Homo sapiens: one gene and its partners. The protein of the gene in region 1 interacts with the protein of each later gene in a biochemical or structural test. Each region holds a gene or a part of one and is shown in the gene's direction. Other genes may lie near its edges. The genes, in order: RPS6KA3, MAST1, APBA2, MAGI3, GRID2IP, PDZRN4 and CTNND1.

Region 1 (4,056 bases):
CTGGTGGTTCTCTTGTTACCATGGTTACATAACAATTAGTCTTTTCCTAGGAGTATGGAAATTTTTTTTTATTCCCTTAGTGTTATTAGCTTGATCCTCTATTCTGTTTTTGGTTAAACTGTTTTAGCAAGATTATTTCACAGCTAATACCGTGTGGTCCCTATTACATCAGGAGGCTTACAATACCTGGTTGCCCCCACTTTAAGTGATGGGCTCCAGTGGTTGCAGCTGATTCCTCCGTTGTAAAGTTCCCTGGCATGCTTTTAACTAATGGTTCTATCCATTAATAATCATTACTTGAAACAGTTATTTTATAAGGAATTCAAAAGTGATGAATTGCTTTTCTTTTAAAAAAAAAAAAAAAAGTTTAAATTTTGGAGATGAGGTCTTGCTCTGTTGCCCAGACTCGAATGCAGTGGCATGATTACAGCTCACTGCAACATCAAACTCCTGGGCTCAAACGATCCTCCTGCCTCAGCATCTGGAGTAGCTAGGACTACAGGTGCACCACCATGCCCAGCCAAGTTCTTTAATCTTTTGTACAGATGGTATCTTGCTATGTTGCCAGGCAGGTCTCAAACTCCTGGGCTCAAGTGATCCTCCCACCTCCGCCTCCCAAAGTGTTGGGATTACAGGCATGAGCCACTATGCACCAGCCATGATTTTCTATTATTATTATTATTCCTTCCTCATTTATTAGCTGGTATTTTCTCAACAAACTTTCCCTCATCAACTATGATGATTTAATTACTTGAAATAACGCTCATCCAAGAAAAAGAGAATAAATACTTAATTCTTTTCTTAAATTGTTTCTAATGTCAGAGCCCTAGTTACTTCCTAGTGGGGGTAGTATCCAGTGAGTCGAGTTTTTGTATTTTGACTTTGCTTTTTCTTACTTTACATAATAAACTCATGGGATTTAATAATCAGTGTGATTCAGCCAATTGCAGTCATTATTTTTAATGCCCTAATTGTTCTTTTTCTGACTACCTTTTAAATGGTCTTATCCCCCAGGATCCGTCTATGATATGCTTTTCTTCCCCCTCTGCACTCTTTCCTGACTGACTTCAGTCTTTCCTATAACTACCCTCCACATTTTAATTACTCTCAAATCACTCTTTCTTACATGAATTTACCAGGCATTAGACCTGTGTTTCTATTTACTCACCTGCCTGGCCCTCCCAAAACATATTACATGCATGACTTCACATCTTTGAACTAAATGTATCTTTATTTGCTGTTCTTTTCTTATACTCCCAGTTATCAGCATTTTCATGCACCCTCTTCCAAGCCAGAAACCAGGAAATCATTTTTTATTCCTTCTCTCTTTTGCATAATTAGGTATTCTCCAAATTCGATCTCAGAATTATTTCACTGTTCCAGCCTTTCCTCTGAATTAAACTGCTTAAAGTATTCAGAAAACAGTGACCTCTTACCCATACTATCTGACCACATTCCTAAGTTGATTGCCTACCACTTATGACCTCTTCCCACTCCAAATTGTTCTCTATTACCCTTGGAGTTACCTTCTTGAAAATAAGTCTAGTCATGTTAGTCCAGTTTCAGGACCTCTGCTGCATCCTTGTTACCTAATACAATAGTGTTTCCCCAGATTTGTCCAAGAGAATATTAATTCTACAAGATATTAATAGGTATTCTTTGAAAAAGAGGTGCTGGAAATAAATACTTAGAAAATACTGATTTCACCCATAATCCCAGCACTTTGAGAGGCTGAAGTGGGAGGATCACTTGAGGCTAGGAGTTCAAAACCAGCCTAGTCAACATGGCAAAACTCCATCTCTACAAAAAAAAAAAAAAAAAAAAAAAAAGCCAGGTGTGGTAGCACACACCTGTAATCCCAACTACTTGGGAGGCTGAGACACGAGAATCCCTTGAACCCAGAAGGCAGAGATTGCAGTGAGCCGAGATTGTGCCACTGCAGTCCAGCCTGGATACTCTGTCTTAAAAAAAAAAAAAAAAAAAACTGATTTGTTTGCTCTAGATTTCTCAGCCTTTTTATATGCAGTGTATTTTAATTCTGTGTGTCTAATAGGGGGATATAATAAATAGCATTCTACAAGCTCATTGGGTCATGAATTTTTTTATTGTTGCTAACTATCTAGAGGGATTAATGTTATTCAGTAAAATTTGGGGAAACACTAGCCAAATGAATAAATTGTTAGCCTTTAGATTGCATTGAAGACCTTTCATAATCTCCCATGTTAAATTAAATATCCCCTACTGTTCCCTTGTCACTCTTTGCATATGTTCTTCTGCATTTGTCTCTTAATGTACTAGCATTATCTGTATCCATCTTCACCATGGACCATGAGTTTCATGGGCTCTCTTTATCTCTGTATCCTCAGCACTAAACAGTGTCTGGCATGTAATAGCTCAATAACAACCCACTGAATAATAAATGGATCTGTTTCTGAAATAGGAATTTTCCCCAGCTCTATTATTATTGTCATACTTACAGGATCATTGGTTTCTTTAATTTGTAGGTTTGGAAAAAGAATTAAAATTAGAGCTGAAACAGACCTTCAAGTTCATCTAGGCCAGCAGTTTTTAGACTGTGTATCTTCAATATTTCACAATCCTCTTTCCCACAGTTCCCCTTCCCTTCAGGGGCTGTTAAAGGGAATAGAAAGGAAAAAGTGGCATATGAAACACATGTTCTCTTAGCAGCTTTAAATGTTAGGTTTCTTAAATTCCCTTTGAGGAGGAGTTCCGAGGCTATACTTTGGGAGCTATTGGTCTAGAGACCAATCCCTTTGCTTATGAAGAAATGATAACAGGCCCAGAATAATTGGCTTTCCCACTGTCACAAAGTTCTTAGTAACAGAGCCAGAACTAGGATTCAAATGATCTTACTTTCACAGTGCTCTTTGCAAAATTTTGAAAAATGAAAAAGCTTATTAGATTATGAACTAAAATTCAGTTATGTGTTCACATGAAAACCTGTACATAAATGTTCACTGTAGCTTTATTCATATTAGCCCCAAACTGGGCACAACCCAAATGTCCTTCAACAGATAATGGATAAATAAACTGTGACATATTCATACAGAAGCCATACATGTAATAAAATGGCATAGAACTAAACACACACACAAATAAGTGCAAATAAAACCAGTGCCATGTGAATGAGATCATTGGATTGTCTCCATGTCAATATCCTGGATGTGATATTGTACTGTAGTTTTGTAAGATGTTACCATTGGGGGAAACTGGGTAAAGGGCACAGGGGATCTCTCTGTATTATTTCTTACAACTGAGTGTGAATCTACAAGTATCTCAAAAAGTTTAATTTAAGAATTTTTAAAAATAAAAATACAGATGCCTCCAAAAAATAAAATATTATGTGGATTTATTATTTAGAGCCAAACTTGGAATGCCACAGTTTTTGAGTCCTGAAGCGCAGAGTCTTTTACGAATGCTTTTCAAGCGAAATCCTGCAAACAGATTAGGTAAAAATTTTAACTAATTTGTTTATGTTGTATGTTTGTTGGTGTTTGTTTTTAGCGGGGAGTAGATATTTGTTTTGTGGTGGAATTATTAACTATTTAGACAAGGCTAGGCCTGGTGGCTCACGCCTGTAATCCCAGCACTTTGGGAGACCAAGGCGGGAGAATTACTTGAGTCCAGGAGTTCAAGACCAGCCTGGGAAAAATGGCAAAACCTCATCTTTACAAAAAATACAAAAATTAGCCAGGCATGGTGGTGCGTGCCTGTAGTCCCAGCTACTCAGGAAGTTGAGGTAGGAGGATCACTTGAGCCTGAGAGGTTGAGGCTGCAGTGAACTGAGATCACACCACTGCGCTCCAGCCTGGGTGACAGAGCAAGCCCTTGTCTCAAAATTAATTAATTAATTAATTAATTAATTAGACAAGTATTGAAAACAAAGGCTGAGCAATATGTATATTTCTCCTTGAAATAAAATTATCAGTGAATCCATTTTTGATAGGTGCAGGACCAGATGGAGTTGAAGAAATTAAAAGACATTCATTTTTCTCAACGATAGACTGGAATGTAAGTATAGAATGAAAACTTGCT
Region 2 (4,056 bases), on another chromosome or scaffold:
ATCACTGCGCCCAGCCTTGTTTTGTTTTATTTTTAGTGCATTGTCCAGGCTGGAGTGCAGTGGTGTGATCACAGCTTACTGCAGCCTTGAACTCCTGGGCTCAAGCAATCCTCCCACCTCAGCCTCCAAAAGTAGCTGAAACTACAGGCAGGCACCACCATGTCCAGCTAATGGAGGGTTTTAAGAAGATTTGATATGATCAGATTTATGTTTTAAGAAAATCCATTTGGAGGCCCATTATAGTAGCTTACGACTGTAATCCCAGCACTTACAGTGGGAGACCAAGGCAGGCAGAACACTTGTGGTCAAGAGTCCAAGATCAACCTACCCAGCATGGTGAAACCCTGTTGTTGTTGTTTTTTTCTTTTCCTTTTTTTTTTTTTTTTTGAGACAGAGTTTCGCTCTGGCTAAACTCGTTGCCCAGGCTAGAGTGCAATGACGTGATCTTGGCTCACCGCAACCTCCTCCTCCCGGGTTCAAGCGATTCTCCTGCCTCAGCTTCTTGAGTAGCTGGAATTATAGGTATGCACCACCACACCTGGCTATTTTTGTATTTTTAGTAGAGATGGGGTTTCTCCATGTCAGCCAGGCTGGTCTCGAACTCCCAACCTCAGGTGATGTGCCTGCCTCGGCTTCCCAAAGTGTTGGGATTACAGGCGTGAGCCACTGTGCCCGGCCAATGAAACCCTGTTTCTACTAAAATTACAAAAATTAGCCAGGAGTGGCGGTGCACGCCTATCATCCCAGCTACTCGGGAGGCTGAGGAACAAGAATCTCTTGAACCCGGGGGCGGTGAGTGGGCAGAGGTTGCAGTGAGCCGAGATGGAGCCACTGCACTCTAGCCTGGGTGACAGAGCCAGACTCTGACTCAAAAAAAAAAAAAAAAAAAAAAAGAGAAAAAGAAAAAAATTAAGAAAAGATAATCCATTTGGCTCTTGTGGAGAGAGCAGAATCAGGAGACTAGGAGGTAGATGACTGCTCTAGTCCAGGTTCATTGCAGAGGAGGAGGAGAGAAGGGGGCCAAATCAGTATCTCTATGGTGGGTCTGTGTGCACAATAGATGTGCTCAAATGCAGATTCCTGGGCCCCACCCTCAGAGAGTTTCTGAAACCAGCAAAATCTCGCAGAAAAGAGAACAGAAAAAAGAAAGAAATCATTAGCTTTCTTGGTCATTGGTGATTGAAAAACCAATATTACCTTCAGGAATGGCTGGATGTAGGTGCTCAAACCATTCCATCAGGAAACTCTCCATCTCTTGGCTCTGTACTCCCACATGTGGGCTTCCTTCTAGACAAGCCCTCATGTAGCAAGGTTGCCATCTAGCAGATCTCAGCTTACATTCTATGAGCTTAGCAATTCTTACAGGAAAAGAGTGAAAATTCCAAGGGCTAACTCACTGGAGCAACTTGGGTTACATACTGCCCCGGTTGCTGCACATGGAAGGAAATCTAGCCTTTGTAGGATAAAAAGGAAATAGATATTGAGAAACTGAAATACCAATGCCAATTACAGTAAATCTGGCAGAGGGGCAGAGGCAGTGGCCAACACTTTGGGAAGCTGAGGCAGGAGGATCCTTTGAACCCAAGAGTTGGAGACCAGCTTGGGCAACACAATGAAACTCGTTTCTACAAAAAACTTTTTTTTTTTTTTTTTTGAGACGGAGTCTTGCTCTGTCACCCAGGCTGGACTGCAGTGGTGCGATCTTGGATCTCTGCAACCTCTGCCTCCCAGGTTCAAGCCATTCTTCTGCCTTAGCCTCCCGAGTAGCTGGGATTACAGCCGTCTGCCAACAAGCCAGGCTAACTTTAGTATTCTTTTTTCAGAGATGGGGTTTCACCATGTTGACCAGGCTGGTCTCGAACTCCTGACCTCAAGTGATCCACCCGCCTTGGCTTCCCAAAGTGCTGGGATTTCAGGCGTGAGCTACCATGCCCAGCCTTGAACAATTTTTTAAAAATCAGCTGGGCATGGTGGCTCACATCTGTAGTCCCAGCTACTCAGGAGGCTGAAGCAGGAGGATTGCTTGAGCTGGGAGGTTGAGGATGCAGTGAGCTGTGATCTTGCCACCGCACTCTAGACTGGGCAATGGAGTAAGACCCTGTCTCAAAAAAAAAAAAAAAAAATCTAGTGAAGACCAAGAATCTGCATCTAAGGCTTCCAGCTCCAAGGTTCAGACACCAGGAGATAGAGGGCTGTGCTTCCAGATGCAGTTGATAAGTGGGTAGCCTTTGTTCCCCAACTAAACCTCACCTCTACCAACAACTGCCTGCATGACCCATCCTTTCTTTGAGTCTCCATCCCTTTGTGTATAAGATGAGCTGATGACACCAACTTTGGAGGATGGCTAAGAGGACAAGAAGAACCCAGTAGAGGACCTGGAGGGAGGGAGGCCCCTCTCAGAGCCTCAGTTTCCCTTATCTATAAAACGGGTACAACATAACATGAGAAGTTGGTGCTATGGTGCATGTCCAGAGAGAGGAATGCCTCCCTTTTTATGCGGGCCCATTTCCTGGCCTGCAGGCGGCGACTGTGCCACCCTGCTGAAGAATATTGGAGCGCTGCCCGTAGAGATGGCCCGCATGTACTTTGCTGAGACGGTGCTAGCCCTGGAGTATTTGCACAACTATGGCATCGTGCACCGCGACCTCAAGCCTGACAAGTGAGCTTTGATCTTTCCCATCACTCCCTCTGTCCCTCGGGAGGCCAGGAGGCAGAATGGACGGGCCTCATCCCTGAGATCCCCACCTGTGCCTACAGCCTCCTTATCACCTCCATGGGTCACATCAAGCTCACAGATTTCGGCCTCTCCAAGATGGGGCTCATGAGCCTCACCACCAACTTATATGAAGGCCACATCGAGAAGGACGCCCGAGAGTTCCTGGACAAACAGGTGTGTGTGCGGGCATGGGGGTCGCTGAGGGTGGAGTGACCCTGCAGGACCTCGGGAACCCAGGGCCTGGTGGGGGGCACAGCTCTCCCTTGAGGGCCCTCCTCTGGCTGGGGCGTGGGCTGACAGCCTGCCCCCAGGTGTGTGGGACCCCAGAGTACATCGCGCCCGAGGTCATCCTGCGTCAAGGCTACGGCAAGCCAGTGGACTGGTGGGCTATGGGGATCATCCTCTACGAGTTCCTGGTGGGCTGTGTGCCCTTCTTCGGAGACACACCAGAGGAGCTATTTGGACAGGTCATCAGTGGTACGTGGCTTGGCAGTGTACAGGGGCAGAGTGTGGTGTGCACGGAGAGATGGACAGGCTCAGGGTTCCAGGGATTTCAAAAGCGACCCCCCAGAGGATCGCTTGCACTCAGGAGGTCAAGGCTGCAGTGAGCCATGATCGTGCCACTGCACTCCAGCTGGGTGACACAGTGAGATCCTGTGTCCAAACAACAACAACAACAAAAACCGCCCCTAAGTTCCGTTTTGTTTTGCAGATGACATCCTGTGGCCCGAGGGGGATGAGGCCCTACCTACGGAGGCCCAACTCCTCATATCCAGCCTCCTGCAGACCAACCCTCTGGTCAGGCTTGGGGCAGGTAAGTCCGCCATGCAGAGGAGCTGAGGGCCCACTGATAGAGAGCAGGCCTCCAAAACCCCAGGCCCAGCCTGTGCTGTGGCCCCGGGGCGGAAGACATGGGGGGCGGGGCTGGGCTGCTGGGTTGGCCATCAGCTGTGGCTGGAATCCCTTCCGTCCCAGGCGGCGCTTTTGAGGTGAAGCAGCACAGTTTCTTTCGAGACCTGGACTGGACAGGGCTGCTGAGGCAGAAGGCCGAGTTCATCCCCCACCTAGAGTCGGAAGATGACACTAGCTACTTTGACAGTGAGCTGGGACACCAGGCACGACCTGGGTCGAGGGGTGGGATCCGGGAAGAGGGACCCTGGGGTAAGTAAAGCCTGGGATAGGGCCTGGCTAAGTACCAAGATGTGATGCCTAGGTGCGAAGGTGGTATTTTGGTGGGGGCGGGGCCAAGTGGGGCGGGGCTGACATACAGGCGGGGCTCAGGCTGAAATGTAGGTAAGAACCTGAGATTGGGCTAGGTGTGGGGCCTGGCCTGGGTGAGT
Region 3 (4,056 bases), on another chromosome or scaffold:
GCTGAAAGACATGCACTGGTGTCTCAGGGGCCCTTTGTTGCCAGCAAGAGCAAAGACAGGTCACATGCTATATCTTGCTGAAAAGTGAGTTAGTGTTTTGGAAGGTCAAATGGAGGAACTAATTTATACCACACAGAAAAAAATGTGAAATGGGTGCTATGAGTGTAAAGTTCAGTGATTTGGAGGGCAAATTCCAGAGATATTCCAGAAAGAGAAAAAGGCCATTAGGGAGAGAAATAAAAAAGAAATAGCAAGAATCTTCCTGTAACTAAAGTAAGATGTGGGACTTGATTCGGAAAGGGCTCACCAAATGAATCTCACATAAAATTAATGAGACCCTCATAAAATTAAAAAAGACCCTTATCTAGACATAGTTTGCTGGAATTTCTGAACTCTAAGAGTGGAGAGGAAATTGTATCAGCTTCCAGACGGAAGGAATAGATTTTTGTACCAAGGTAAAAAGAATCTGAATAGTATTAAAATGCACATCTGCGAGACTGTAAGCTAGAAGATAGTGGAACAGTGTTAGCAAATTATTGTGAAAAGGATGCAATACAATAATCTTATACCTAGCAAAGGTATCATTCTATGTGAGATCAGAGCCATTTTATAGATACAAAAGAGTTACCTCCTAAGTAAACAAAATGACTCTAACAATTATTTTTACAAAATAAAAATGAAATCCCACTAAATAGTTCAAGAGAAAGAAATGCAAAAAGTATAGGAAGCAGTGGTAAGTTATGAATTGAGTAATTATAGTCCAAATTATATTGTTGTCGTAGTGTTATACATCTGGAATAAATTTTTCTGAAATCATCTGAAGGCTTGGAGAGCTAATAGGAAACACCAGTGGAAAATAAACTCCTGGTTCTATTGTAGTTCTCCTACAATGTCCTCAGTGTTTTCATTTTTGAAAACTTGAATAACATTTTAATAGGATCTGGACTGTTCCATGTTACTGTAATGTGTATTTTAGTCCTTATGTCCTATATTGGCCTAGAGAATATTTTATTTAGTGTTGGTATACATATTTATATGTGCATATTACAGATTTTATCCCCCCGAATGACAGAGATTTTGAAGTTAAGATAGCAAGAGTACTGTGTACTTTAGTTTGTTCTCTTAACAAGGATGTGCATACCTTCAACGTGCACAGCTTGATGTCAGAGCCTGGCGAGAAACAGGGATGCTGTAGAGATGGCACCGCTATGCAAGGAATGGGAGCTGTGTGCTCATGTGCCAGTGATGTACCATCTGCCCTTTGCCGTCCTGACGTCAAGACATGGACGTCTGGTTGCATGTTAGCAGCTGCATTCAGCACATGCTTCTGAGAGACCGTTTTGAGGAATGTAGTTACTGGAGATTGTGTCTGAGAGTTGTGGTTGCTAAGTCCCTGACATCACTCCTGCAGCCTCTCTCTTGTGGCTGGCTGTCCTCTGTGAAGATAAGAAATCTGGTGACAAGTTATATGTGGTCTTTGAGGCAGCTCAGTGTTCTTGATGTGTCCTCTGACACATCTGGGTTGCAGATGTCTTAGTGAGTGCTGGCCCCTTGTTCTCTTCTAGGGAACAGCTCTTTCGAATTGTCCTGCCAGTTTCAGGGTTTGCGAATGGGGTGACGGGCCCTGCAGGGTCCATCTCAGTGACAATTTTCCTGGTGTGGGACATCTTTGCTGTCTGTGGGCCACTCTAGGGGGAGTGCTGTGAATTGCTCCGCATACCAGTGATGCTCCTGAAACACGGCCATGGACAAGCCTGTGCAGGTGGCGGAGTAAACATTGCTTCTTTAGATGTCAAGTGTCCTTGGAGTGAATTCACACGTTGGAAGCATGTGGCTCCATCAGTAATTGTGCCCACACTCTGAGTGTCTGGACTGGATGAAATAATTATCTCCTTCTTCGTTCTTTTGGGAATATTCATACTGCTGTAACCGTGACCATCTGGTACACTCAGTCTCATAACAAGATGTGTTTTGGGCACCACTACAAACAAGGTGCTGTGTTTGGAGCTCTGGGGGGATACACAATATGGAAGGCCTTGAGTTTGTGGCCTAAACTAAAGAGACAAGAGGGGAAGAGGAGGTACAGGAAGGCAAGATGAGAGCCCGGGCAGTGACTGCTGAGGGTCACTGATAGCTCCTCTTTCATCTTCACTTCCTGCTCCCATCTGAGCCCAGATCCCTTTGCTTCTGCCACCTAAGGTCCTCACTGAGCCACTTCTCCACTGTCCTCTCTACTGTTTTAGTTTAAGCTCTCCTTTTTTTTCTTTTTAAAAATTGCAGTAAAATAGACATAAAAAATTTAGCATTTTAAGCATTTTCAAGTGTGCAAGCTCTTAACTGGACTACTGGAATATGTTTTTTTAAATAATTGAACTATCATGCAAGCAAAAAGGCATGTGTAATGTAAGAGTACAGTTTAAAGAATATGACAAACATTTGGGGAAGCAATTAGCTGAAGAAGTAGAACGTTGCTGGGCGTGGCGGCTCACCCCTGTAATCCCAGCACTTTTAGAGGCCGAGGTGGGCGGATCACGAGGTCAGGAGATCGTGACCATCCTAGCTAACACGGTGAAACCCCGTCTCTACTAAAAATACGAAAAATTAGCTCGGCATGGTGGGGGACACCTGTAGTCCCAGCTACTCGGGAGGCTGAGGCAGGAGAATGGTGTGAACCCAGGAGGTGGAACTTGCAGTGAGCTGAGATGGTGCCACTGCACTCCATCCTGGGCGACAGAGCGAGACTCCATCTCAAAAAAAAAAAAAAGAAGTAGAACGTTAAGCAAACTTTTGGACGTCCTCTGTGCCACTTTCCTGATGCTAGCCCCTTGCTTTCCCCCAGAAGAGAGAATAGCCTTTTCACTGGTCTCCCTGCCTCTAGCCTCTAGCCTCTGTCCCCACGCCAGGCCCAGAGAGACAGGGCTAAAAGAAAAAATGTTGAAAATGGCTCAGTGACTGTGCACATGTCTTAGTCTGTTTTCTGTTGCTATAACAGAATACCTAAGACTGGTTGATTATAAAGAATGGAGATTTGTTTCTCACAGTTCTGGAGGCTGGGAAGTCCAAGGTCAAGGTGCCAGCATCTGGTAAGGGCCTTCTTGCTATGTCATCCCAAGGCAGAGGTGAGAAGGTGAGGGAGAATGAGAAAGAGAGCAAGAGAGAGCCAAACTCACTTTTATAACAAACCCACTCTCACAATAAAGAACTTCCTCCCAAGATAAAGACATTAATCCATTCATGAGAGCACAGCCCTCATGACCTAATCACCTTTCAAAGGTCCCACCTCTCAACACTGTTGCATTAGGGATTAAGTCTCCAACGCATGAACTTTGGGGGACATATTAAGGCCATAGCCGTGTGGTTTGGGGGATAAAGTGCAGAGTCCTGGGCACTGGGTCCAGGCCCTCTCCCAGTTTGGCCTGCCAGGTCTCTGCAGCTGCCCTGTCACCCCACGATACCTGCAGGCTGCGGCTGCACCCTTTGTCCTCTTCTCCCCATGGCCGAGCAGTGCTGTCCCCTCTGCTGAGCCCTCCAGCCTGCCACGCTGGGGACTTGTGTAGAGCTTTTCTGCACATTGCTCAGCCTGGATGGTCCCTGCGCATCCAGTTCCTCGGTGAACATTGTTCAGTTTGAGGGGGAAGAGGAGGGAGAGGATGGGATAAGCCTGAAGGGGAAGGTACCCAAGATAGTCTTTGAGGGGTCATGGATTTAGATTGGGAAGAGTTATTGTCCCTCCTCATTGGTCCTCATTATGTCTTCTTAATGAAAGCTGCTCATTTTCTTCGTGAGAGCAAACAACCTGATCTTCTGACCATTTGTCTTGGTCACCTGGGCTACCCAAACTGAGTGAGAAGTCAGGAATGAGCCGGTAGGTTCCTGGGGAGAGGCGTGTGTCCTCGTGAGTTGCCGGTGCCTCCCTTGACTGCTTTTCCCGGAGCTCTGTGTGCCCTCGTTCTCCTTGGTGTGGATGCGTGTTGTTCTGATGATGAGTTAGCGGGGGTGGGGATGGCGCACTGTTTGAACAGATGTGCCCTCACATGGCTGCGGGAGGACGTGGTG
Region 4 (4,056 bases), on another chromosome or scaffold:
AACTGGCTGCATAGTGTGCTATTCGAAAAAGTAGTGGAGCTGCATTTTAGAAAGGATTTGGGTTCTCAAGTCATCACAAAAAGAGGGAAATCAAATATAAGCAAAACTGTCTTTTCAAAAAGCCCTTAAATTGTGCATAAAATACTATATTGTACTGTTTGTAGGATGAGTCCAAATGCCACTTTTCCACCCATGTTGGAACCAATTGCAGTTTTTTGGTCGAATACCAGAAGAAGTAATTTGCTTGCATTAAAAAGATATGTTTTACAAAAAAACTTTTAATTCTAAGAAATTATCCTCATCTAGGTATGTACAGTGAATTTATGGAAATTAAATGTGTACATGAAGTGAAAGAATGATTTCTTTTCTTTTTTTCTTTTTAATATCTTGGTAGGATCCACGCCATCTGCCCTTGTTTTCTGACTTGAGTGGTTGAGGAATGAATTGTGAATAATTTTGAACTTGTTTGGGTTTTGAAAGATGACAGATTTTGGTTGAGTGGAATTAGGATCTTTCCAGTAGTAGGTAAGAAGCAGAGGAGGAGAAAAACACAGGGCAAAAACGTTCCATACAGAAAGGTTTACAGTGTGGTCCATCTCAATAATTTTGTGTGTGTTTGTGTACAAGGGCACAAAATCCACATTATAGAATAATTGGAAATTATTTTGTACAAGGGCACAAAATCCACATTATAGAATAATTGGAAAATAGAGGGAAGATCATATTAATTGTTTAAATGTATAGGTAGTTCCATTATGAATAGTCTCCTGTAAGTTTTTTTTAAATGTGTTATCTCCTCGAAATAATGCTCTAAGGTGCTTAATGCTATTTCTGCCTTCAGCCTCATTCCACTCATAATGTTATACTATGAATATTTTTATTTAACCCTTAATGTACCATTAGTTCTGTTCTTTATGGTTAATAGCCCTATTTTTGTTGTTTTGGAAGTCTAGCCAGTTTTATGGGAAAACACAATTTGCTAGCCTAGGAAAAAGGGAATTGAAAAATATATTTTCATCTTAATCCCGCCTTCCCTTTTGTTACAGCCACAGCCGACTGGCTTCCAGTGAGAAGGGTGGCATCATTATATCTCCATTCTTCCCTGAACCCTAGCAATTTATCCTGATGCAGCCACTCAGCTGCATTGCAGTGGTTTCCAGGAGCAACCCACTTACCTGCAGCCCCCACCCATTTCAGTCATCCCAACATGGCCAGGGGAACATAGATTACATTTTGAGGACCATAATTTGACTTATGACATATCTAAATACCTGAGAAAGGACACGCTGTCCTTATAGGTGATTAGGTACTTGTTTTATTAACACATACTGAGAGATATTGTTTTAGAGACTCTGTATGGGTTATGAAGGGTTAAACTTTTTTGCCATAATTTGTTTGGAGTTTAGGGTTTGGTTTTAAAAAATATCATGCAGTGGTAATTGGAAAAAATTTTGTTTCAAATTTATTAATAATTAAGATCTTTTCTATTTGGAGGCTTCCCTTTTTATTGTCTTGGGTATACAATGTGAACGGTAACCGATCTACTTAATTAAAACTTTCTGGCATTTTAGCCTCTTTGCTTTTGCTGGTTTTTTTGCACATAATTTGAAACACGTAATTATTATTTTCTGGCTTCAGGGGAGTTTGTGAGAGGCAAGCCTGTATCTCGTTGTTCTGATTGGGAATTACACATGACTATGAAAAATGGGATTTTACTATACATAATGGCATTTAACAGAAGTAGTTTTATGAAAGGAAAATATCCTACAAGGTAGGAAAAAAACAAGTATTTATTAATGCTTCATTTTCTGAACTTAAATAGAATTAAGCTAAATTGGCTTTGCTTTTTCCTCCAATAAAATAACTTTTAAAAATTCACTTTAATGGAGTAGTTCCAGAGATATATTACTCTTTGGATATGGTTATCTAGTTTGCAGCAAGTATCTTGTGATATATAGCTTAGATCTCAGCAGGAAAGAAAAAAATCTTAATTTACATATCAGTTTCTGTATTTGTAAGAATTCTGTAGCAAGTGACAGAAACGCTGTTGAGATTAATGTAGGCTAAGAAGAAATTTATTGACTTACATACATTAAAATCCAGGCATAGATCAGTAACAGCTAACTTCTGTTCTCAAGTGTTGGTCATTAGAATTATTATTTGGTTCTCTTTTCTTCTGGGTTGGATTTTTTCTCAGCTAGACTGTCAGTGTAGCGGTGAAGGTAGCTCTGAACCCCGAAGTCATACAGGGTCCTTAAAGCTTCTCATCTTTTTGGAGTCTAATAACAAATCTCATGCAGGGACTTTGGCCCTGTGCCCATCTCTTGGACCAATTATTGTAGAGAGAGGAGAGGACAATGAAGTGCCATGATTGGTCAGGCGTGGGGACATGTCTACCCTTGCAGCTGGGTATAAATAGCATAATATGATTAATAACTGTAGCAGAACCCCAAGACGTAAGGGAGGGGGAGTTCCTGAAAGGGTGGGATGCCGAGGAATCAATACTACAGGAAATGATCTCTTTTAAAACATTTAATCTCTCTTACTTGGAGGCCAGAAGTAGTACACAGTTGTCATAAAACTATCATTTTTAGAAAAACAGATATTGGCTGTAAACCAAAACTGATTTGATTTCTAGGCACTGCTTTTACTCAAATATTTAAATAAAAAATTGCTTTTATTTAAAAGTTATTTCTTTAAAAAATTGAAATACTGATACCTTAATGTGCACAATTTAAAAGTATTTCTTGTAATTTTTATTTAATTTTCTTTAAAAAAATTAAATAAGATTCTCTAAAATCAATGCTGTTGATTTTTAGGGAGATGGAATACTTTGGAAGATTAACAGTCTTTGGCATTGAGAAAAATATTATTAGCCTAGTTAAACAATTACGTTTTTAAAACAATTTTATTCTACCATTTTGAAAATGAAATTCTAAACGAATTACTTTCCAAGGTGTTTTGCTTTTAAAACAATGGTCTTTTTAAACACAAATTGAGACAATGTCATTATTGTAGTATTTCTGAGGGCTCCCTAATAATACTTTTTAACCATGATTTCGTGGAAATTATGTGAAAGGAACTACTTCACTGACTCTTATATAAAATGGGTATATAAGAGTTTTGAAACATTACTTAAGTATGGTGTCATGTGGTAACTGTTTAATTACCAAAAATGTTATTTGGCAGATATTGCAGGATAAAATCTGATCCCCTTTTTAAAGTTTTTTATAGCCTCCACTGGGAGAACAGAGGTACTCAGAGCAGGGGTAGACAGTTGAAAGAGAGGGGTGGGTGCTCCAAATAACATTTCATACTATTTTTATATTCTATTACTGTATCAATGTCTTCAGCTTTGGTGCCATAAAAATAATAATTTTAGTAATAACTTTGAGTTTATATATGCCATGCACAGTAGGAGTTTTGTAGTTTTGCCAAGTGTCATCTGGTAGTTGGATCTTTAGTGAATATTAAATGTTGGTAGATTATTGGTGAATGCACTTACTGTACATAAAAATGAACATTCATGGAATTGGGTGTGATTTGCCAGTAAGAATCATCATAGCAAGTACTTTGTATTGTTAGATTAGTTTGGGCACCCTTCGGATGACTTTAGACCATATTTGGAAAATTACTGCTTCTACTTCAAAAGCCTGTAATAATTAGAGTTCTCCAATATTAATTCCATATATTGATTAATTAAGCCATGAAATCTAGTAAAATGATATAGTCTTTATTACCTCTGTTCACAGAATTGTATCTCAATCCAACTTGGTAGCTTTCAGCAGAACACTTTGTCAAAATATTATTAATTTTAGCTAAGAATTCTATTCACTAATTTCAGTGTTTAAGTTAGAATGCACATGCTAGTGAAAATTTTAATTTCCTTTGAATAGAATTAGATTTGCTAACTAGAGCAATCTCACAATGTAATGCTGATGACTGAAATGACACTTCAGCCTCCCTTGGGTGACAACCCTAAGTTTAGACAACCTTACTCTAATAGGAATATTGAGGACTTATCACAACATATTAGCTGTCATTTAGAGTAATAAC
Region 5 (4,056 bases), on another chromosome or scaffold:
CCCTCCCATGGCCCTGTGACCCTCACCTCAGCTGTGGATCAAGAAAGTAGCCTGGGTACCGTGGGTCGTGCCTGTAATCCCAGCACTTTGGGAGGCCGAGGCAGGAGGATCAATGGAGCCCAGGAGTTTGAGACCAGCCTGGCAACATAGTGAGGCCCCATCTCTAACAAAAAAAATACAAAATTAGCTGGGCATGGTTGCATATGCCTGTAGTCCCAACTCCTCAAGAGGCTGAGGCGGGAGGATCACTTGAGCCCAGGAGTTCAAGGCTGCAGTGAGCTATTTCGAACCACTGCACTCTAGCCTATAAGCAACAGAGTAAGACCCTGTCTTAAAAAAGAAAAAGAAAGAAGGCAGATGCCTGATTCTGAGGAAGTCCCCGAGTTAGCAAGTGGTTATTGGATAAATGATCAAGTGCAACGCGTTGTACCAGCGTTGGCACAGCTGGGAAGACAGTTGCTCTGCAGCTCAGAAGGCAGGAGCCCTGGGAGGCCCTCCTGTGATCTCAGGGCTTGCTGGGTGCGCGAGACGCTCCATGACTGTGGCTCTGGGCCCTAGAGAAACCCCTCCACCCTTTGAGTTAATGGTGTTCAGTGGCTCCCAGCTGGGACCCCTGGTGACCATTCCAAGGTGAGCTGGCGTCCAGCCTGTCCTGAGGCCGAGCAGTGCTCCTGCTCACCAGATCTGGCCTTTAGTCATGCTTGGAAGGCAGGGCCGCTCAAGGTCTTCCTGCACTGTGCCCAGAGAGGGAAAGGAGAGTGGCCTGGGACACAGAGCCAGTCTGTCCTAGGACCCTCTCTCCAGCTTGCACCTGGAACCTCGGTGCTGGCTGAAGAGGAATCCTCATACTCCATCCCTCCTCCAGGGCCCAGGACCCTGTCCGGCGTCTCATGGCCCAGCGAGCGACTCTTGCCCTCCCCCTGCTACCACCCGCTGTGTTCGGGGGGTCTGGCCTCCCCCAGCAGCTCTGAGTCCCACCCCTACGCCAGCCTGGACAGCAGCAGGGCACCCTCCCCACAGCCAGGCCCCGGGCCCATCTGCCCCGACAGCCCCCCAAGCCCGGACCCCACCCGCCCGCCCAGCCGCAGGAAGCTCTTCACCTTCTCCCACCCTGTGCGAAGCCGCGATACTGACCGCTTCCTGGACGTGCTGAGCGAGCAGCTGGGCCCCCGGGTCACCATCGTGGATGATTTCCTGACCCCGGAGAACGACTACGAGGAGGTGGGCACGCAAGCAGGTGTGGAGGGAGGCGGGTGAGGCGAGGTGTGGCGGTCTGCAAGGCAACAGTGTTCCTGGGCTCCCGCAAGGGGCCTGCTGCCCTTGGGATCTTCCCCAGGCTATCCCACTCCCTAGCTCAAGCTATCCCACCCCTTGCCCCAGGTTACCCTATCTCCTGTTCAAGGTTATCATGCTCCTTGACTGAGGCTAGCCCATATTCCCTGTCGCAGGTTAGCCCATTCCTTAGCTCAGGCTATCCCACTCACAGCCTGAGGCTAACCCGTGACAGGGTCCTGTCCTTATTCCAGGCTATCCCCCTCACAGCCTGAGGCTTACCCATGAGAGGGTCCTATCCTTAGCCCAGGCTATCCCCCTCACAGCCTGAGGTTAACCTGTGAGACAGTCCTATCCTTAGCCCAGGTGTCCCTCACAGCCTGAGGCTAACCCGTGAGATGGCCCTGTCCTTGTCCCAGGCTATCCCATGATCCTTCACTTTGCACCTGCTCTAGTCTCTCTGGGCCCAGCCTCACCCTCCCCTTGCCTCTCTCCCCACCACCAGATGAGCTTCCATGATGACCAGGGCAGCTTCGTAACCAATGAGCGGAGCAGCGCCAGCGACTGCATCAGCAGCAGTGAAGAAGGCAGCTCCCTGACCTACTCCTCCATCTCTGACCACATCCCCCCACCCCCGCTCAGCCCCCCACCACCGCCACCCCTGCCTTTCCATGACGCTAAGCCCAGCTCCCGCAGCTCTGATGGTTCCCGGGGCCCTGCTCAGGCGCTGGCCAAGCCCCTCACCCAACTCAGCCACCCAGTCCCTCCACCACCCCCACCGCCCCTGCCCCCACCCGTGCCCTGTGCACCCCCCATGCTGTCCCGGGGCCTGGGCCACCGGCGCAGTGAGACCAGCCACATGAGCGTCAAGCGCTTGCGGTGGGAACAGGTGGAGAACTCAGAAGGCACCATCTGGGGTCAGGTAGGTGACCTGGGACCCAGCAGCGCTCTGTACTGGGGGAGGATGGCTTGGGCAGCAGCACTGAAGGAAAACCCATCGGCCAGGCATCTTCCAACATCATCCTCCCTACCCCAAGCAGAGGATGAGTAGAGGCCCAGCCCAAGAACGTCCCCACGCTTGGGGGCCACTGCAGGCATTGAAGCCAATCTGTGTCCCTCAGCCAAAGACACACACTGGGGACACCTGGAAATGCCACCCTACCCATCCTTGAAACCTATCACTTTTGAGGCCAGACAAGTTCTCTTAAACCTTTAAAAGAGCAGCTGGTTCAAACTCCTGCACACCAGCCTTCACCCTTTCACTTTGATGCTTGAAGTTCCTCCCTCACAACACTGGCAGTGTATGCTTGAACACCTTCAGTGGTGGGGAACTCACTACCTGTCAAGGTCTTCCTTTCCTCACTGGACGATTTTAACCATCCTTTGTCTTGCTCTGAAATCTTGTCTCCCCAGGATTCCCATGCCCTGTTTTCTTTCTGGCCCTTAAAATCGGGCAGAGCAATCTTATCCACAGACCAACCAATCTGCAAGATGAACAAGGTTCACCCCACCCCTTTTTTTTTTTTTCAGATCATTCTCTTAGAACATGGTTTCCAACCCCCACTCCAGTGTCCATGTCCCTGTCAAAGAGACATTCCCAGATGGAACCCCCAATGGGGCTTGACCAGCTCAGAGGAGAGAACAGGGTTCTCAGCTCCTTTGACTGGGACATCATACTCCTTTTAATATGGCAGGGGCTCCTTCCAGCTCCCAGGGCTGCCCCGTCCCAGTGCTCATGATCACCATCATCCTCAACTCCATCTTCTTGGGATCAATAGCTCACTCTCACATGTAGTCACACTGGGCAGAGGCATGCTTGTGATTTTTCCCCACTGCCATCTCCTGGGTCCCAATTCTGTCTCCTGCTTTCTCAGCCCACATCTCCAGGGACCCTTTCCAAGTTGCTAATAAAGATGCCCATTGAGGCCAGGCTTGGTGGTTCACGCCTGTAATCCCAGCACTTTGGGAGGCTGAGGCGGGAGGACTGCTTGAGCCTAAGAGTTCAAGACAAGTCTGGGCAACATAGTGAGATCTTGTCTCTACAAAAAAATCAAAAAGTTAGCCAGACCTGGTGGTGCATGCCTGTGGTCCCAGCTACTCGGGAGGCTGAAGAGGGAGAATCACTTGATTCCCACAGGTGGAGGTTGCAGTGAGCCAAGATGGCACCACTGCACTCCAGCCTGGGGTACAGAGTGAGACCCTATCTAAAAAAAAAAAAAAAAAAATACCTCAGTGAGACAAGGGCACAAATAAGGACCTCCTGGGTCCCCTGGAGACCTCACTCCTGCCAGCCTTGGACCGATCTTCAAGTATTGCTCCACAGCGTGGTTCTTCCATTGGTTACCAAAGGTGGACACAGGGACACAGGTCACACATGTGGCCAAACCCAAATCCATCCTCAGTGTCCCTGCCCTGCAGCCATGTTCTAAGACTTCATTCCCCTGCCTGCCCTCCCTTTGGGTTCTCTCCCTTTGGCAGCCACCCCGTCCGCACTCCCTGCCCCAGCCCCAGGCTGTTACCTCTCATCTATGCCATTCATCACAGCCACGTGTCCAGCGTCTGGCCCCTAGGCTGTCACAGTTGCAGTTCTCTCAGCACCAGCTCACTCTGCCCAGGGCAGCCCTGGTGAACTCACCGCTCTCCAAGGAGACCTGATGACAGAGCCAGACCCCTGAGCCACCTCCGGTAGCCCCTTACTTGGCTCTAGCCTCTTCACAGCTCCTTCATGCCCCCGCTGCAGTCCCACCTTGCTGGCTTCTGCACGAGTAGTGTTCCAAGTCTTGA
Region 6 (4,056 bases), on another chromosome or scaffold:
GACCACACTTCAAACAGTGAGGATTTAGGATAAAATGCACATGGGCAATAACATGGTCTTGGATTAAAACATTATGAATATGGAGGAAATTTGACAATATCTTAAAAAATTAAATTTTAGGCAAGTAAGACCTTGATTAAATATTGAAAATCTCACCGAGAGATTGATAGATCATGAAAAAGTAGGATATACTTAACATTTCTAACTATCTGAAGACTTCGGTGACCCTTTTCTGAAGCAGATGTGTTACTTAAATTTTTAAATCTTTGCTAATAGTTCTGCTGTTTTACTAGTTAACCAACTCCAGATACTTTATAAAGATACAGAAGTAATTGTTGTTGTAATCTCAGGTACTTCATCATGTTGGTAAAGACTTCAGTAAATATTAATATCTGATTAAATATTCCATTACAAAATTCATATCAGGGCTGGTTGAAACCTTTCTCTCTGTCTTTTATTAATCTATCATGACAGCCTCTCTGATCTTTCCTCTGAGATGAACAATGTCCTTATATGTTTGTAGGTCAATGGGAAGGATCTTTCAAAGGCCACTCATGAAGAGGCAGTGGAAGCTTTTCGCAATGCCAAGGAGCCCATTGTGGTGCAGGTGTTAAGGCGAACACCTCTTAGTAGACCAGCCTATGGGATGGCTTCAGAAGTGCAGCTTATGAATGCCAGCACTCAGACGGACATCACCTTCGAACACATCATGGCTCTGGCCAAGCTTCGTCCACCTACCCCTCCAGTGCCAGACATCTGTCCATTCCTGCTCTCAGACAGGTATTTTTCTATCATTTCTTCCAAAGCCCTGTTTGTTTCCATTTGTCACGTAAAGCAGATGTTGAAAAGAAGCAGTTCCACTAGCAGGTTGACAGTTATGGAGACAGGCTTCCCAGCTCCGTTTGGAAAATGTCTCCCCTGTTTTGATATGTGCAATTAGTTCTCAGTGGTCCCTGCTAGCTACTCTCCCTGACCCACATGGTTGCTCCACCTGGGTAATCATACTTGCTAGCTGCTGTGAAAAATTCTGGCTCTGATTAGTTCATCTTCATATTACTAGCTGTCAAAAGCCTCATGCTACTCATGAACACTGGTCAGGGAAATCACTTTTCTCACCAAAGCTGCCAAAAACCTTATTAAGACTCATGTGGAAGTGGCATCTTGGCACCACATTCTCCTCTGTGGGCCACCTCTCTCTCTTCCTTGCATTTCTCTTCTTTAAAGAGAAGCTAGGAAATTGATTTAATTAAAGTGCAATTCTCTGACGAAAGCACTTACCCAATATATTGAGATATAAACAAAGGATCTTGGCTGTCAGAGAGTAAGTATAGTGCTATCAAATAAAGATCTATTCAAGGAATACTTCCTCCTGATTTTTGCCTAATTTAAAGGAAGTCAGAGAGATTTTATTCAAATAATCCTACTTGAACAGTTTTAAAAGTATGCTTGCCCAATTCATTGTGTTCTGTGAGCTTTCGAGCAAATATTCAAACATTGAGAGTTTGTAAGAGCAATAGTCTCCTTAGCCTGCATTTTCATCACCTACTCCAATCCGCTCTCTACTTCATAAAACAAAGATCTGAGTCATGCCACTTTCCTGCCCTTTGATGGCTGGCTCCCATAAGCCCGTTTCAGTGGGTCACAGATGTACAATAGAATCACCTGGGAACTTTCAGAAGCTGTATCAGTACCTGAATCACTCCTTAGGCCAATTAAATGAGAATTCTTAGAGTAAGGCTTAGGCATCAGAAATTTTCAAAAGTCTCCCTAGGCAATCCTAATGTGCAGCCAAGTTTTGAAAACACTTCTTGAGACTTCGAGTTCCAGGAAGGCAGGGGATCTGTTTGTCTTGGGTATCTCTTTATTTTAAATAGCCCTTTGTATCAGACACAAATTGGATGTGTCAGGGCTTGCAACTAGATGCTTGGCATAAAACTATGAACAAAAATAAAGTCACTGCCTTCTAGAGTTTATATTCTACAAGGGGAGTTGAACAAAAAGCAAGGAAACAAATATATAATATTCATTAATACAGCCTAAAACATAGTAGCCATCCAACAAATACTTCCTTGAATGAATAATAATAGCTAGCTTGTATTAGCTAACTTAACATGCTTTCAGTATTATTCCAAACGTTTTGCATTTATTGACTCATTTAGTTCTCACAATAATCTTAGGAGGGAGTACATTATATTATCAACATTCTATGTCTAAGATGAGGGAACAGATATTAAGTAACATGGCCAAGATCACATAGCAAAAAAGTGACAGGGCCAGGCTTCTAGGCCTAAGAGGTCTGACCCCAATGCCTACCCCCTTAGCCAGTGCATCTTGCTGCTCTTCCTAGGTCCTGCAGACCTTAGCTTAGAGACAACCTCCTCTAGAAAACTTCCTAGGGCTGCAGTGGGTCCACCCCTACCATGTGCTCCCAAGGCTCCTGTATTTTTCCCTTAATTATTGCACTGTATTAAAATTCCCACTTTGCTGCTTTCCCCAATTAATAGGGCAGAATTGGATTTTGTAAACCAACATATTTCCAGCACTTGGCCTTGCATCTGGCAGCCACTAAATAAACGTCGAATGAATAAAGTGTTCCTCACAGCAGGGCTCCCTTCTTACTATCCGAAAGACAAGGGAAACACATCAGATGTCCAAAGCAGCAGGCTTCGATATTCCAAGAGCCCAAAAGGGCTATGCGGACCCAGTCCAGCTATAAGCAAGGAGATTTATCTGGTAGACACAAGGCAAGGTGCTGCCTGTATTACTTTTACCATTTTGGCCTACACTAGTTAGACCTGTGTGGAGCTGACAGCCATAGATAGTAGTGAGGAGAGGCTGGTAGAATATTTACGCTGACTATAGTATGAGGGCATGAGGATGGGTCTCTTGCCTTTCAACAAGGGAGAAGGGAACTAATTGATACTGCTATCTCCAATTTTTCAAAAAGATCCACACTGGCAGGAGTTAGAGGTCTCATCTGCAACCAACTTGTCAATTGTATTTAGGCTTTTTCAGTGTCTTTTAGAAATAGAAAAGGCCTTATGCTCTTTGCTGTTAAACTATGCTTAGTCTTCATATGGTATGATGTGTAGTCTTTATATCAGAACATACTAAATCGAATAACATGTTTACAAACTATTTAAAAATTTCCTAAAAGTTGAAATACATAAAAGCCATATCCTCTCATTTCCTTAATGTAATCTGCTCTCTCTGTCACTGAGAATTTTCTAAAGGTATTTTGAAACCTTGTGGCTTATAGGAGTTTCCACTGATTGATCGCCATGAATGTTCTTTAATATTTGTGTATATGTCCTTGATCAAAGAGGGGAAAATGTGCATTATGAGGGAGAGTGAGAAAGGGGGATCTTAAGAAAGAGAGGAGGGGACAATGTGAGCACATTTTAGAGTCTGAAAAAATAAGTGCTTTTGAAAATGGTTTTCAAAAAATAGTTTGCAGCTGTGGATTATGAAATTGGTAGTACTTTATGACAAAATACCCCTCTTTGAGTAGACTGCAATCTCAAATGCCACACACCCACGTATGGAGCTTGTCACATTCAGTGGAATGGAAGCAGGCCAGAAAGTATCAATAAAGCACCACGGACTGTCAGAGATTTCACATCAGTCTTTCCACAGAATACAACTCTGACCATAGGCCCTTATTCCTAGCATTCTCTCAGAAATTGCAAATTGATGGACTTCACGTAGAGGGAGAAAGAAAAGCTATTGCTTTTCCTCAGCTGTAGTTTGTTTAAAGACTAGATCACTACAGATCTTATTCCAAAGCAGAGCAAACTAAAGTGAAATTCTAAAATCAGTTTTAATCTGGAAAACAACCCATTTAATCTATTCCTATCATATTGCTACATTCCCCATAGCTGCCATTCTCTACATCCAATGGAGCATGAATTTTATGAGGACAATGAGTATATTTCCAGCTTGCCTGCTGATGCAGACAGAACAGAAGACTTTGAATATGAGGTAAGGTCATTTTCATACCACTTCACATTTCTTCATGAAGTTACGGTTGAGGGGTTTTGTATAACAAAGAAATTA
Region 7 (4,056 bases), on another chromosome or scaffold:
GGGGTTTCACCATGTTGGCCAGGATGGTCTCGATCTCTTGACCTCGTGATCCACCTGCCTCGGCCTCCCAAAGTACTGGGATTACGCGTGAGCTACTGCACCCGGCTGAGTGATTTTTTTTTTTTTTTTTTTAAGATAGAGAAAGTCCCTCATACTGAGGAGCCTTGCAGTTGAGAGAGAACAGAATTCCAGTTGGAGGATCAAGGAATTTGAGGGAGGCAGCATGCTTGCAGTGTTCCTAGGATTTTTACAGGAACTACAATAGAAAGTTAGGGATGAAATTATATTGAAAGGAGAAAGCTGGACTGCTCAGGTTTGGAGGTCATGGGGAATTCCAGGATTCAGTATGTGGTTGCTCTCTTATTTTTAACTTCTGCTTAGCAGTAAAACCACACCCTTCCTTCTTCCTGAAAGTAATGTTTAACTTCCTCTCCCTGCAGCATTACACTCTATGTAATGGGAGTGGGGTGGAGGAAGAGTCTCCCAAGGTGGTTGGATCTCACTATTCTACTGGAAGAGGAGCAGGCAAATATATTTTTATGTGGTATAATGTCATTAGATTATTTCCTGCTGCTTAAGACAGAGCAACTTCTGGATGACATTTTGGAATGTATTCTGTGGCTCTAATAATTGTTGGTAAAGATATTGAGCCTTCTGTTTTCTTGAGGGGAGTTGGGGTGCTTGTTTTTGTACTTGGAAAGGGAGACTCGTATCTCTTGCTTTTTTCTTTAATTAAATTTCTGTTTTTTACATTAGGACATGATAGCCATCTTGCTTCTTTCTTTAAAAAGCTGCCTGGAATGGGAGTTTCCAGTGGTAGTACTGCATGAAGATTCATGAGACTATAAAGCTCTTTGGAAACCCCCCAACTTAGCCCTTCCAACTTTCCTTACATTTTTATGGCTTTCCAAAAAGGTTGCATGTAAGGGAAATTATCTAGGTCTGTGCTGTTTATTCAGCAAATAGTTTTTGAGCACCTGTTATGTGCCAGGCACTGTTCAAGGCACTAGACTAAACTAAACTTATCCCAAAAAACCCTCTGCCCTCGTGGAGTTTACGTTCTTATGTTCCAGAGACCCTGTCTGCCAGAGTTCCAGGCCTGATTTTCAATTTTGAGGAAAGTGCTAAGACTAAAGAGTGAATGGTTCTTTTATGAGTACTGACACAAGGACTCCAGGCCACACATATCTTCTTGAAAGCCCTTTTCCTGTTTGAAAAAAAGATCGTTTGTATTTGATAGAGCAAAAGAAGGCCACAAAATGAATTGTCTTCTTGTGGGCTGTGTTTCAGAACGGCCGGTTTGTGGGCGATGCTGACCTTGAAAGACAGAAATTTTCAGATTTGAAACTCAACGGACCCCAGGTAATTCTTTGGCTCAAGACCTGGGTTGCTTCATTCATATTTTCTTATTTCCCCAGCCTATAAGAGCATATTTGTGTCTTGTAAGGTGCCTGGCACATTGTACATACTCGTCAATTAGTTTCTTTTATTTACGAAAACAAAGAAGTGGAGCTCCAAAGTATATATGCAGTTTTGTTTTGGAATGAATTTTAATGACCATTGATCTTTATGACTATTCCTCCTCCCCACTGCCACCCCATTTGATCCCTAAGTACTGCGTTTCTTTTCTAGAGACAGTAGGCTTCTACTTTGCAGCAAAAAACCCTACCTAAAATCTGGCTGGTCTTGAGCCTTTTAGACGGTATCTGAAGAGTAACATAAAGCCAGTCAAAAGATGGCTCTTACTGGGATTTTCAGGTTTGTCTTAAAAGTTCTTTATTTTTGGCCAGGCATGGTGGCTCATGCCTGTAATCCCAGCACTTTGGGAGGCTGAGGTGGGCAGATCACCTCAGGTCGGGAGTTGGAGACCAGCCTGACCAACATGGAGAAACCCCGTCTCTACTGAAAATACAAAATTAGTCAGGCGTGGTGGCACATGCCTGTAATCCCAGCTACTCGGGAGGCTGAGGCAGGAGAATTGCTTGAAACCAGGTGGCGGAGATTGTGGTGAGCTGAGATCATGCCATTGTACTCCAGCCTGGGCAACAAGAGCAAAACTCTGTCTCAAAAAAAAAAAAAAAGTTCTTTATTTTAGACTGGGCACGGTGTCTCATGCCTGTAATCCAACACTTTGGGAGGCCAAGGCAGAGCAAAACTCCGTCTCAAAAAAAAAAAAAAAACAAAGTTCTTTATTTTGGCCAGGCGTGGTTTGCTCATTCCTGTAATTCCAGCACTTTGGGAGGCTGAGGCTGGAGGATTGCTTGAGCCCAGGAGTTCAAGACCAGCCTGGGCAACATAGACCCTGTCTCTACAAAAAAAATAAAATTAGCCAGGCATGGTGGCGTGAGCCTGTAGTTCTAGCTACTCAGGAGGCTGAAATGGCAAGATTGCTTGAGCCTGGGAGGTTGGGGCTCCAGTGAGCTATGATCATGCCACTGCACTCTAGCTTGGGTGATAGAGTGAGACCCTATCTCAAGTAAATAAATACAAGTTATTTATTTATTGGGTGAGCTGCTCTTTTGAGGGATCACTCAGATATAGATGAAACTGCATTTAACACAGTTCATGTTCACTTAGATGACCACAGCTGGGAAGTTAAATCTACTGTCTGTCACTTGGATGTTGATGTGGCTATAGTTAGTTCATGTTTGTTAAATGACTACAACTGGGAAATTATGTCTACTGTCCTTTTGTACAAGTTCAAAAGATGACAGCCACCCATCTAAAAATCCTGAGGCCTATAGAAGATGCATGAGGAGTCCCTGTCTCCAGGTTTACCACTTATGCTTCTTATTAGGATGGCTTGTTATACATAGCACTTAATAGTAGTTTCTTCTCTTTTCTCTTTTGCATATAGGATCACAGTCACCTTCTATATAGCACCATCCCCAGGATGCAGGAGCCGGGGCAGATTGTGGAGACCTACACGGAGGAGGATCCTGAGGGAGCCATGTCTGTAGTCTCTGTGGAGACCTCAGATGATGGGACCACTCGGCGCACAGAGACCACGGTAAACTAAGACGTGTGTAAGATCTGGAAGTGATAAGAGGTCTTTTCTTCTCTATTAGGGGAGGGGTTAAGCACTTAATTAAGATGGAGGACTGATATGCCATTATTGATCTGATTGCATGAAGTGATCTCTGGCCAGATAGAAAGGATGAAGAGATGGGAAAATCTTATGGGATAGGGAAGACAGAAGGTATATCAGGGTCTATAGTAGCTTCCCTTATAAGCATAGTTACTGTCAGGGCAATTTTCCTGCTTGGGGACTTCCTATAGGATGGAAAGAAAGATAGATGGTAGGCTTTAAGGCATTCCTAGGTAAAGTGACCTAGGGATATAAAGATTTGTTTCTTTTGGAGTGGTATAGAATTTAATTGTTCATGGCTGGGCGCGGTGGGTCACGCTTGTAATCCCAGCCCTGTGGGAGGCTGAGGTGGGCGGATCACGAGGTCAGGAGTTTGAGACCAGTCTGGGCAACATAGTGAAACCCCGTCTCTACTAAAAATACAAAAAATTAGCCAGGTGTGGTGGTGTGTGCCTGTAATACCAGCTACTCGGGAGGCTGAGGCAGGAGAATTGCGTGAACCTGGGAGGCAGAGGTTGCAGGTGAGCCGAGATCACGCCATTGCACTCCAGCCAGGGCAACAGTGCAAGACTCCATCTCAAAAAAAAAAAAAGAATTTAATTGCTCACTTCCTTAATTAGTTTTTCTTTTTCTTGTTTCCTACTTGCAGGTCAAGAAAGTAGTGAAGACTGTGACAACACGGACAGTACAGCCAGTCGCTATGGGACCAGACGGGTTGCCTGTGGATGCTTCATCAGTTTCTAACAACTATATCCAGACTTTGGGTCGTGATTTCCGCAAGAATGGCAATGGGGGACCTGGTCCCTATGTGGGGCAAGCTGGCACTGCTACCCTTCCTAGGAACTTCCACTACCCTCCTGATGGTTATAGTCGCCACTATGAAGATGGTTATCCAGGTGGCAGTGATAACTATGGCAGTCTGTCCCGGGTGACCCGCATTGAGGAGCGGTATAGGCCCAGCATGGAAG

What was found.
Region 2: the proteins of RPS6KA3 (region 1) and MAST1 interact in a test that uses a peptide from one of them, tested with the Homo sapiens proteins (one large-scale study listed by IntAct).
Region 3: the proteins of RPS6KA3 (region 1) and APBA2 interact in a test that uses a peptide from one of them, tested with the Homo sapiens proteins (one large-scale study listed by IntAct).
Region 4: the proteins of RPS6KA3 (region 1) and MAGI3 interact in a test that uses a peptide from one of them, tested with the Homo sapiens proteins (one large-scale study listed by IntAct).
Region 5: the proteins of RPS6KA3 (region 1) and GRID2IP interact in a test that uses a peptide from one of them, tested with the Homo sapiens proteins (one large-scale study listed by IntAct).
Region 6: the proteins of RPS6KA3 (region 1) and PDZRN4 interact in a test that uses a peptide from one of them, tested with the Homo sapiens proteins (one large-scale study listed by IntAct).
Region 7: of the proteins of RPS6KA3 (region 1) and CTNND1, one has a biochemical effect on the other in vitro, tested with the Homo sapiens proteins (one study listed by BioGRID).

Annotation. Positions count from the first base shown.
Region 1 is NC_000023.11:20,176,410-20,180,465, reverse strand, and holds part of RPS6KA3 (ribosomal protein S6 kinase alpha-3), read left to right. Parts: intron 1-3,381; coding exon 3,382-3,470; intron 3,471-3,949; coding exon of another isoform or gene 3,950-3,967; coding exon 3,968-4,032; intron 4,033-4,056. UniProt on the Homo sapiens protein: Serine/threonine-protein kinase that acts downstream of ERK (MAPK1/ERK2 and MAPK3/ERK1) signaling and mediates mitogenic and stress-induced activation of the transcription factors CREB1, ETV1/ER81 and NR4A1/NUR77, regulates translation through RPS6 and EIF4B phosphorylation, and mediates cellular proliferation, survival, and differentiation by modulating mTOR signaling and repressing pro-apoptotic function of BAD and DAPK1.
Region 2 is NC_000019.10:12,862,289-12,866,344, forward strand, and holds part of MAST1 (microtubule-associated serine/threonine-protein kinase 1), read left to right. Parts: intron 1-2,520; coding exon 2,521-2,659; intron 2,660-2,757; coding exon 2,758-2,890; intron 2,891-3,027; coding exon 3,028-3,193; intron 3,194-3,428; coding exon 3,429-3,530; intron 3,531-3,691; coding exon 3,692-3,814; intron 3,815-4,056. UniProt on the Homo sapiens protein: Microtubule-associated protein essential for correct brain development. Appears to link the dystrophin/utrophin network with microtubule filaments via the syntrophins. Phosphorylation of DMD or UTRN may modulate their affinities for associated proteins.
Region 3 is NC_000015.10:29,049,705-29,053,760, forward strand, and holds part of APBA2 (amyloid-beta A4 precursor protein-binding family A member 2), read left to right. Parts: intron 1-4,056. UniProt on the Homo sapiens protein: Putative function in synaptic vesicle exocytosis by binding to STXBP1, an essential component of the synaptic vesicle exocytotic machinery. May modulate processing of the amyloid-beta precursor protein (APP) and hence formation of APP-beta.
Region 4 is NC_000001.11:113,396,929-113,400,984, forward strand, and holds part of MAGI3 (membrane-associated guanylate kinase, WW and PDZ domain-containing protein 3), read left to right. Parts: intron 1-4,056.
Region 5 is NC_000007.14:6,506,123-6,510,178, reverse strand, and holds part of GRID2IP (delphilin), read left to right. Parts: intron 1-26; exon of another isoform or gene 27-163; intron 164-865; coding exon 866-1,221; exon of another isoform or gene 1,222-1,273; intron 1,274-1,777; coding exon 1,778-2,194; intron 2,195-3,791; exon of another isoform or gene 3,792-4,056.
Region 6 is NC_000012.12:41,505,933-41,509,988, forward strand, and holds part of PDZRN4 (PDZ domain-containing RING finger protein 4), read left to right. Parts: intron 1-523; coding exon 524-780; intron 781-3,878; coding exon 3,879-3,981; intron 3,982-4,056.
Region 7 is NC_000011.10:57,792,720-57,796,775, forward strand, and holds part of CTNND1 (catenin delta-1), read left to right. Parts: intron 1-1,290; coding exon 1,291-1,362; intron 1,363-2,857; coding exon 2,858-3,010; intron 3,011-3,737; coding exon 3,738-4,056. UniProt on the Homo sapiens protein: Key regulator of cell-cell adhesion that associates with and regulates the cell adhesion properties of both C-, E- and N-cadherins, being critical for their surface stability.